Homo sapiens: one gene and its partner. The protein of the gene in region 1 purifies or fractionates together with the protein of each later gene. This does not show direct contact. Each region holds a gene or a part of one and is shown in the gene's direction. Other genes may lie near its edges.

The links.
Region 2: the proteins of SMIM8 (region 1) and ORM1 purify together in Homo sapiens (affinity purification with mass spectrometry; one large-scale study listed by BioGRID and IntAct). This does not show direct contact.

The regions. Positions count from the first base shown.
Region 1 is NC_000006.12:87,336,088-87,339,587, forward strand, and holds part of SMIM8 (small integral membrane protein 8), read left to right. Parts: intron 1-921; 5' UTR 922-944; coding exon 945-1,079; intron 1,080-3,500.
Region 2 is NC_000009.12:114,321,747-114,325,897, forward strand, and holds the start of ORM1 (alpha-1-acid glycoprotein 1 precursor), read left to right. Parts: upstream 1-1,351; 5' UTR 1,352-1,387; coding exon 1,388-1,501; intron 1,502-1,916; coding exon 1,917-2,059; intron 2,060-2,271; coding exon 2,272-2,342; intron 2,343-3,043; coding exon 3,044-3,151; intron 3,152-3,302; coding exon 3,303-3,406; intron 3,407-4,151. UniProt on the Homo sapiens protein: Functions as a transport protein in the blood stream. Binds various ligands in the interior of its beta-barrel domain. Also binds synthetic drugs and influences their distribution and availability in the body.

The DNA.
Region 1 (3,500 bases):
CTTAACTTTTATTTTATAACATTTACTGTACAGCGATTGCAGCATTTCCCCCAAATAATTTTACTATATTGTCATTTATGTCCATCTTTGGAAGCTTTCTTTCTCTACCTCCCCTCTTTCAACCCTCACCTCCCATCCCAGCATTAGATGGCAGAGAGGATAAAATAAGCTTTTGCCTAATAATACCTAGAAGAGAAAAATACTCCCAAAGTGCTGACATTTCAGCTAGGAAAACAAGAAGACAAAAGACACACTTGGATTTAATAGGATAGATTTACAGTAGCTAAGATAAAAAAGGATATTCAGATTAAGGAGATAGCAGGGCATAACCTACCCAGAAAGTTGCTGATTGGCAATGGAAGAGTAAGTACAAACAGCTCCTTATCCTTACTGCTTGGGAAAATGAGTTCGTGTGTGGGCTAGTGGAGGAAGACAGAGGAGCAGTGGGGGAAACTGGCCAGGAGTGAATCTGTAGGAGAAGATAATGAGCAAAGGAATGCTGGTCATTCTCTCAGGTTGGTGTTATGGAGGGGCTGTTGAAAGGTGAGGAGGAGTGAAAGCAAGGAACTAAGGAAAGGAACGGATAACCTACTGGCCTCACCTACTCATAGTCTTGGTTGCATATGATACGACGTGACTCAGAGCAACAAACAATTCTCCAGTCTTCTATAAAAGCAGGAAAACAACCTTTGCCCACCACTTTTATTTTGAGATGAAAATTAAAATAATGAACAAAATTAACAAATTAAAGTTAAAGCACCATTTACAAAGTACATTATACAAAGTAATAAGATAACTGACAATCACATTTGGTATGTATCTGGGTTGGAATTCAAAGAAGGAATTTAAGAATTACTTTTTAAAGAAATTTATCAGAGAAGCACAATTATGAAGGGAAAAAATATATTATTTTGTTTTTAGATAATAAATCATCATTGATCAAGATGTCTTCAGCACCTGAGCCTCCAACATTCAAAAAGGAACCACCCAAAGAGAAAGAGTTTCAAAGCCCAGGGCTCAGAGGGGTGCGCACAACAACCTTATTTCGTGCTGTGAATCCAGAGCTCTTCATTAAACCTGTAAGAAATACATCCAGGATAAGACTTTGTGTTTAATCCAACCAGACTGTCAGAAAGTTCTAATTTTCTTGTATTTGATTTTATCATGGAAATTTTATGTTGACAAGTAAGACCTCTCTGTGAATAAAAGCAGGTGGAAGGACGATTGTAAATGCTGTTTCACATATAAATACACATATAAAAGTAAATATTTTAAGGGCATTTGAGAGTTATAATGAAAAATGGTTGCCCTTTATTGGATTGGCTTCTCAAACTATCTAAAGTACTATTTTAATAGTTGCATTAATTTGAAGACAACTTTTGTTGTTTGATCAGGTACTATTAGGTAAATAAGACCTTCCATTTAAGCAAGGAAACCAAAATGAAAATCTGACCATTCTTAACATACTGCAATTCTACCCTGTAGGTAATATTTTTATCTAAGCAATATTACAGATACTTTGTGAAAAATTCCAAAACATTTGATTTGATGATATTCATTTATTTATTAGAGGTTCTGTCACCTAGGCTGTAGTGCAGTGGTACAGTCAGCTCACTGCAGCTTCAAACCCCTGGGCTCAAGGGATCCTTGTACCTCAGCCTCCTGAGTGGCTGGGACTACAGGTGCACGCCTTTATGCCTGGCTCATTTTTAAAATTTTTTGTAGAGATGGTGTGTCAGTATATTGCCCAAACTGGTTTTGAACTCCTGGCCTTAAGCGATTCTCCCACCTCAGCCTCCCAAATTGTTGTGATTACAGGCATGAGCCACCACGCCTGGCTGAGTTTATTTTTAAATAAATGTAGATTCTATTTTAAAATAAATGTAAAATCAAATTAAAATAAAATATGATAAATATTTAAGTGTGTTGAATCTGATTAGAATTTTAGTAACATAGTTATCAATGTAAACTTTTAAAGTTAAATAGATCAACTTAATCAGATCATTAAATCAAGGTAAAATATTTTAAAAGCTTTGAACTAATGTGTTCTTTTAATTGCTAAAAGCATTTCAAGAATTGTAAATTTAAACTGCTCTGAGTCTGTGTCCTTTCTTAGGTGTTCATCTAAGTGAAAAAGTTTGACCCTTATTTTGAAATAGAAGTGTCACCTAAAGGAAGAAACTGAGGCAAATTAATATAGGTAGGGAGTTTATTTGGGCCAAGGTTGAGGACTGCAGCCTGGGAAACACTTCAGAGTAACCTTGGGAAGCACTCTGGAGAGCAAAAGAGAGGCTGGAGTTTTTAAGAAAAAAGATGAATCAGGAGAGGGGGCAAGTACAAAAGTTGCTTTTCAGTAATTTTCATTGGTTTGCAGAAATGACATTGATTAGTAATTATACATTGTTGAACTACAGAGTATGAGTTATAATGTCTAGTGGAGGGCATTGTAAGGTTAATATATAGCTATTGGTTGTGTCAGTCCAGAGCCCACATAACAAGGGCTTCAAAATTATTACTTAGCTCAAGACATGACTACTGTCTCATTCCAATGCCTCTCTGGGCCTGATAATTTAAAGGGGGCTCACATTCCACAGTTAAAGAGTTTCTTTTATTTCTCAGTAGTGGTACAGCAGGTATGGTGACAGAAGCAGAAACTGTTATTTATATCACTACTGTGCATTTACATTGACCTAAGAAAGACCAACTCGTTGAGTGTGAACATGCAAAGAAAAGGGTCTGAGGTACAGTTTCAGGAGTAACAAAGTTAATAGACAAAATACTTTTCTGGAGTTGTGAACATCTTTCCTGTATTTAAAAGCTTTTTTTTTTTTTTTTTTTTGACTGGGCATCATGACTCATGTCTGCAATCCCAGTACTTTGGGAGGCTGAGGTAGAGGGATCTCTTGAGGCCAGGAGTTCAACATACTGAGACTCTATCTCTACAAAAAAATTTAAAATTAGTCTGGCCACAGTGGCTCACACCAAGGTGGGCGGATCACTTGAAGTCAGGAGTTTGAAACCAGCTGGCCAACATGGTGAAACCCTGTATTTATTAAAAATACAAAAAAATTAGCCAGGCATGGTGTGCACAACTGTAGTCCCAGCTTGGGAGGCTGAGGCAGGAAAATCGCTTGAGCCCAGGAGTTTGAGACTGCAGTGAGCTATGATTGCACCACTGCACTCCAGCCTGGGCAACAGAATGAAATCCTGTCTCTTAACAACAACAACAAAACACAGCGTGTGTGTGTGTGTGTGTGTGTGTGTGTGTGTGTGTGTGTGTGTGTGAAATCCTGTCTCTTAACCTCTTAACAACAACAAAACACAGCGTGTGTGTGTGTGTGTGTGTGTTTGTGTGTGTGTGTGTGTGTGTGTGTGTTTTAACCTGAAAGCATCACTTTGCCTCTTAGGGTCTTGGATTGTCCAAGAGTAAATCAAGGTTAACAGCATAATAGCTGTTCCCATCACTAAATTTCTTGAGGTAATGGAGTAGTTTCCCAGAG
Region 2 (4,151 bases), on another chromosome or scaffold:
ACCGCGCCTGGCCGACCTGGCTAATTTTTAAATATTTTTGTGTAAAGATAGGGTCTCACTATGTTGCCCAGGCTAGTCTTGAACTCCAGGACTCAGGTGACTCTCCCATCTTGGGTCCATTAAGCTTTTAACTACAAACTACACTGAAATATGAAAGTTATTCAGAATGAAATGAATAAGAATGCAAAATTATAATCATACCGTAAGAATACTTTCTGAGTAATCCCAGCACTTTGGGAGGCCGAGACGGGTGAGTCACCTGAGGTCGGGAGTTCCAGACCAGCCTGGCCAACATGGAGAAACCCCATCTCTACTGAAAATAACAACAACAAAAAAAATTAGCTGGGCGTTGTGGAGGGCACCAGTAATCCCAGCGACTCAGGAGGCTGAGGCAGGAGAATCGCTTGAACCCAGGAGGCACAGGTTGCAGTGAGCCGAGATTGAGCCATTGCACTCCAGCCTGGGGGACGGGAGTGAAACTCCGTATCAAAAAAAAAAAAAAATGAATACTTTCTGAAAGTATTTATTCATACAAATAAAGACTTGACCCGTGAGGTAGGAACACAAATGGGCCACGGAATCACTCATTCCACAGAATATACCGAGTGCCCTTGAAGTGCTGGGCACTGCTCCAGGATTGGGGGCGTATTGGTGAAAGAGAAGCAAGCTGCCTGCTCAGATGGCAGGGAATGGGGGAAAACAGGGAGACAGTTTCCTGTTTGAGATGTTGGGAGATGCTTCGAGTAGTATATTTACTGGAAATAGACATTCAACTTGGATGTCCCTTTTTGGAAATGTGCCTGCGTCCAGGGCTGGGTTGGGGCCCCAATGAACTTTGGCTCTGACACAGCTGTTGCCACACTCAGTGGAACTGAATCTATGTTTGTCTTCCCCGGCATCCTTCACCCCAACTCTCCCCGCCACAACATACATCCCATGCCAGCCTGGGGACCCTCAAAGGTGGCTTCATCATTAGGTTTGTGGCTGGGTCCCACTGAAGTAAGTCTTGGCACTCAGAGGGATAGGAATTGAATGAAGACATGAGATTCCTCTGCGGGAGGCCTCTCTAGGAAATCTGTGGACTCACACGTTTACTAATGTTGCTGCAGCCCCGCACCCACCTTGGCCTTGGGCAGCCATACTCTAGGGCTTTTGTAACCTCTCCATGTGAGGAACTCAAATTAGACCTGGGTTTGGAGGCGGTGCTCCGAGCTGGCCTTTGGGGGAGGTTTTGTGCGAGGCATTTCCCAAGTGCTGGCAGGATTGTGTCACAGACACAGAGTAAACTTTTGCTGGGCTCCAAGTGACCGCCCATAGTTTATTATAAAGGTGACTGCACCCTGCAGCCACCAGCACTGCCTGGCTCCACGTGCCTCCTGGTCTCAGTATGGCGCTGTCCTGGGTTCTTACAGTCCTGAGCCTCCTACCTCTGCTGGAAGCCCAGATCCCATTGTGTGCCAACCTAGTACCGGTGCCCATCACCAACGCCACCCTGGACCGGGTGAGTGCCTGGGCTAGCCCTGTCCTGAGCACATGGGCAGCTGCCTCCCTTCTCTGGGCTTCCCTTTCCCTGCTGGCTGTGGTCGGACCCCCACTCCCGGCTCTGCCTTTTTCTCTTCTGGGTCCCCAGGGTGAAATTCTCACCAGCCCAGGGGACTCTGGAGGCACCCCCTGCCTCCAAACACAGAAGCCTCACTGCAGAGTCCTTCACGGAGGACGGTTCTGTGCTGGGCCTGGAGGGGCTGCCTGGGGGGCAATGACTGATCCTCAGGGTGAGCTCCTGCATGCGCACTGCCCACCAGGGGCCTCATCTCCCCATCTGCAAAATCAGGGAGAGATCTGCCTGAGTCTCCTCCCAGCTGACAGTCAAAGATTCAGCATCAAGCCCCCATCACCAGCTCCCACCTTCTCCCCAGATCACTGGCAAGTGGTTTTATATCGCATCGGCCTTTCGAAACGAGGAGTACAATAAGTCGGTTCAGGAGATCCAAGCAACCTTCTTTTACTTCACCCCCAACAAGACAGAGGACACGATCTTTCTCAGAGAGTACCAGACCCGGTGAGAGCCCCCATTCCAATGCACCCCCATCTCAGCTTCTGGCCAGAAGACCTGAGCAAGTCCCTCCTTCTTCCTGGCCTTGGCCTTCCCATGGGTGGAACCGGGAGGGCTGGCTTTAATCTCCACCAGACTCTTGCCCCAGGACTGTGATGGGCGATTGGCCACTTCTCAATAATCTTCCTGTTTTCCTTCCGCCTTCTGTTTGGCTTTAGACAGGACCAGTGCATCTATAACACCACCTACCTGAATGTCCAGCGGGAAAATGGGACCATCTCCAGATACGGTGAGGGCCAGCCCTCAGGCAGGAGGGTTCACTGTGGGAACAGGGCAGGCCAGCATAAGGTGGGGGCTGGATGTAGAGCCCTGGAGGCTTTGGGCACAGAGAAATAACCACTAACATTTTTGAGCTCTAACGATGTGCTCAGAAACAACTCTAAGAGGACACTGAGAGAATTAGAGGAGGAAAAAGAAGAACAGAGACCTCAAATAGTTTCCCCAAGGTCACACAGCTTATAATTAGAACTAGAATTGGAACTCCAGGCTGGCTTCAGATCTGCCTCTCTCTCATGCCCTCTTTAAGATCCTTTGCAAACCAATGGTAGAAGCCTGTATGTTGGAGAGGTGGTACCTTCAACTATGTCCCCCATCACCGCAGAGGTGGCACATGGCAGGGAGCTGATGGAGCTGAACTGACACCATTTAGCATCCCGAGCCTCCTCTCTGGGCCTCATTTTCCTCATCTGTAAAACGGAGAAAGGCCCTGACAGCCACGGTCTGTGTGAGGCTCCTGAGATCTCATGTACAGAAAGTGCTTGGCGTGGAGCTGGGCATGCAGCAGGGGCTGGGCACACGGTGGCCCAAAGGAGCCCTGGGCCTTCACTGATGGGCTGTGTGGCCACTGACACACCTAGGCCTCCTCACCTGTAAGACAGACACCATTGTGCCATCCCATGTTCTCACCCAGAGGCTCCTTTTCTCTTCCAGTGGGAGGCCAAGAGCATTTCGCTCACTTGCTGATCCTCAGGGACACCAAGACCTACATGCTTGCTTTTGACGTGAACGATGAGAAGAACTGGGGGCTGTCTGTCTATGGTAGGCATGCTTAGCAGCCCCAAACTCATGCCCCTCTCAGGCCTCACCCCCCATTCACCCACCCCTGGGCTGGCCCCTAGAACCCCAGCCCTCCCTGGCCTCCCGCCGGGCCCCACCATGTCCCCAGTCAGTCTCCTTGCTCCCCCTGCAGCTGACAAGCCAGAGACGACCAAGGAGCAACTGGGAGAGTTCTACGAAGCTCTCGACTGCTTGCGCATTCCCAAGTCAGATGTCGTGTACACCGATTGGAAAAAGGTAAACGCAAGGGATTGGACAGTGCCCACCTTGTCCATGGCCCAACTTGGGCAGCCCCAGAGGCCCAGAGCAGGAGAGCTGCCAGGCAAGGCTGCACAGCTAGGCAGATCTTCTGCTTTTAGGCACCTGCCTCACTGTAGGGACAGCTGAGCTCTACAGAGGCCCAGGGGTGGTGGATGAGAGCCCAGGAGGGAGAAGTCCCTGTGAAACCAGGGAGGACCTGAAAGCTAACAGGAGGGAACAGCGTGAGCCACGGGGTTGGGGGATTGGCAATTGGAGGGGACGTAATGCGGGGAGTTACCACCTACAGACGCGTCCCAAACCCCAGGCTTTCACCCCACCTCCACTCCCCACTCATTTTTAATACCCGTGCAGTGGGGAATTGATACTGTGGTTTTCAATGTCACCCACACTGCAGCACGGCCACAGTCACCATCCCGATTTTTGCTACAAATGAAAATTACTTTATAATGAGCTCCTTAACACTTTTCTTTAAACCTGTGTTTGGAAGACTTGCGTTGGTGTGGCCCTGTGCCCAATACCTGTGAAATCACAGCACCGATGAGCTGGTTCCAATTTTTAAAATATATACATGCAGTACTTCCATGACTATTCAAAGAAAAACAATTCCTTCCATTTGCCATCTGAGATGACCACCAGTGGTGTGAACTACCTCCTGCCCCCATCTGCAGTCCCAGGATCCTGGGACAGGGCTTATGAACACAACCACTGTAGTCAGCTCACC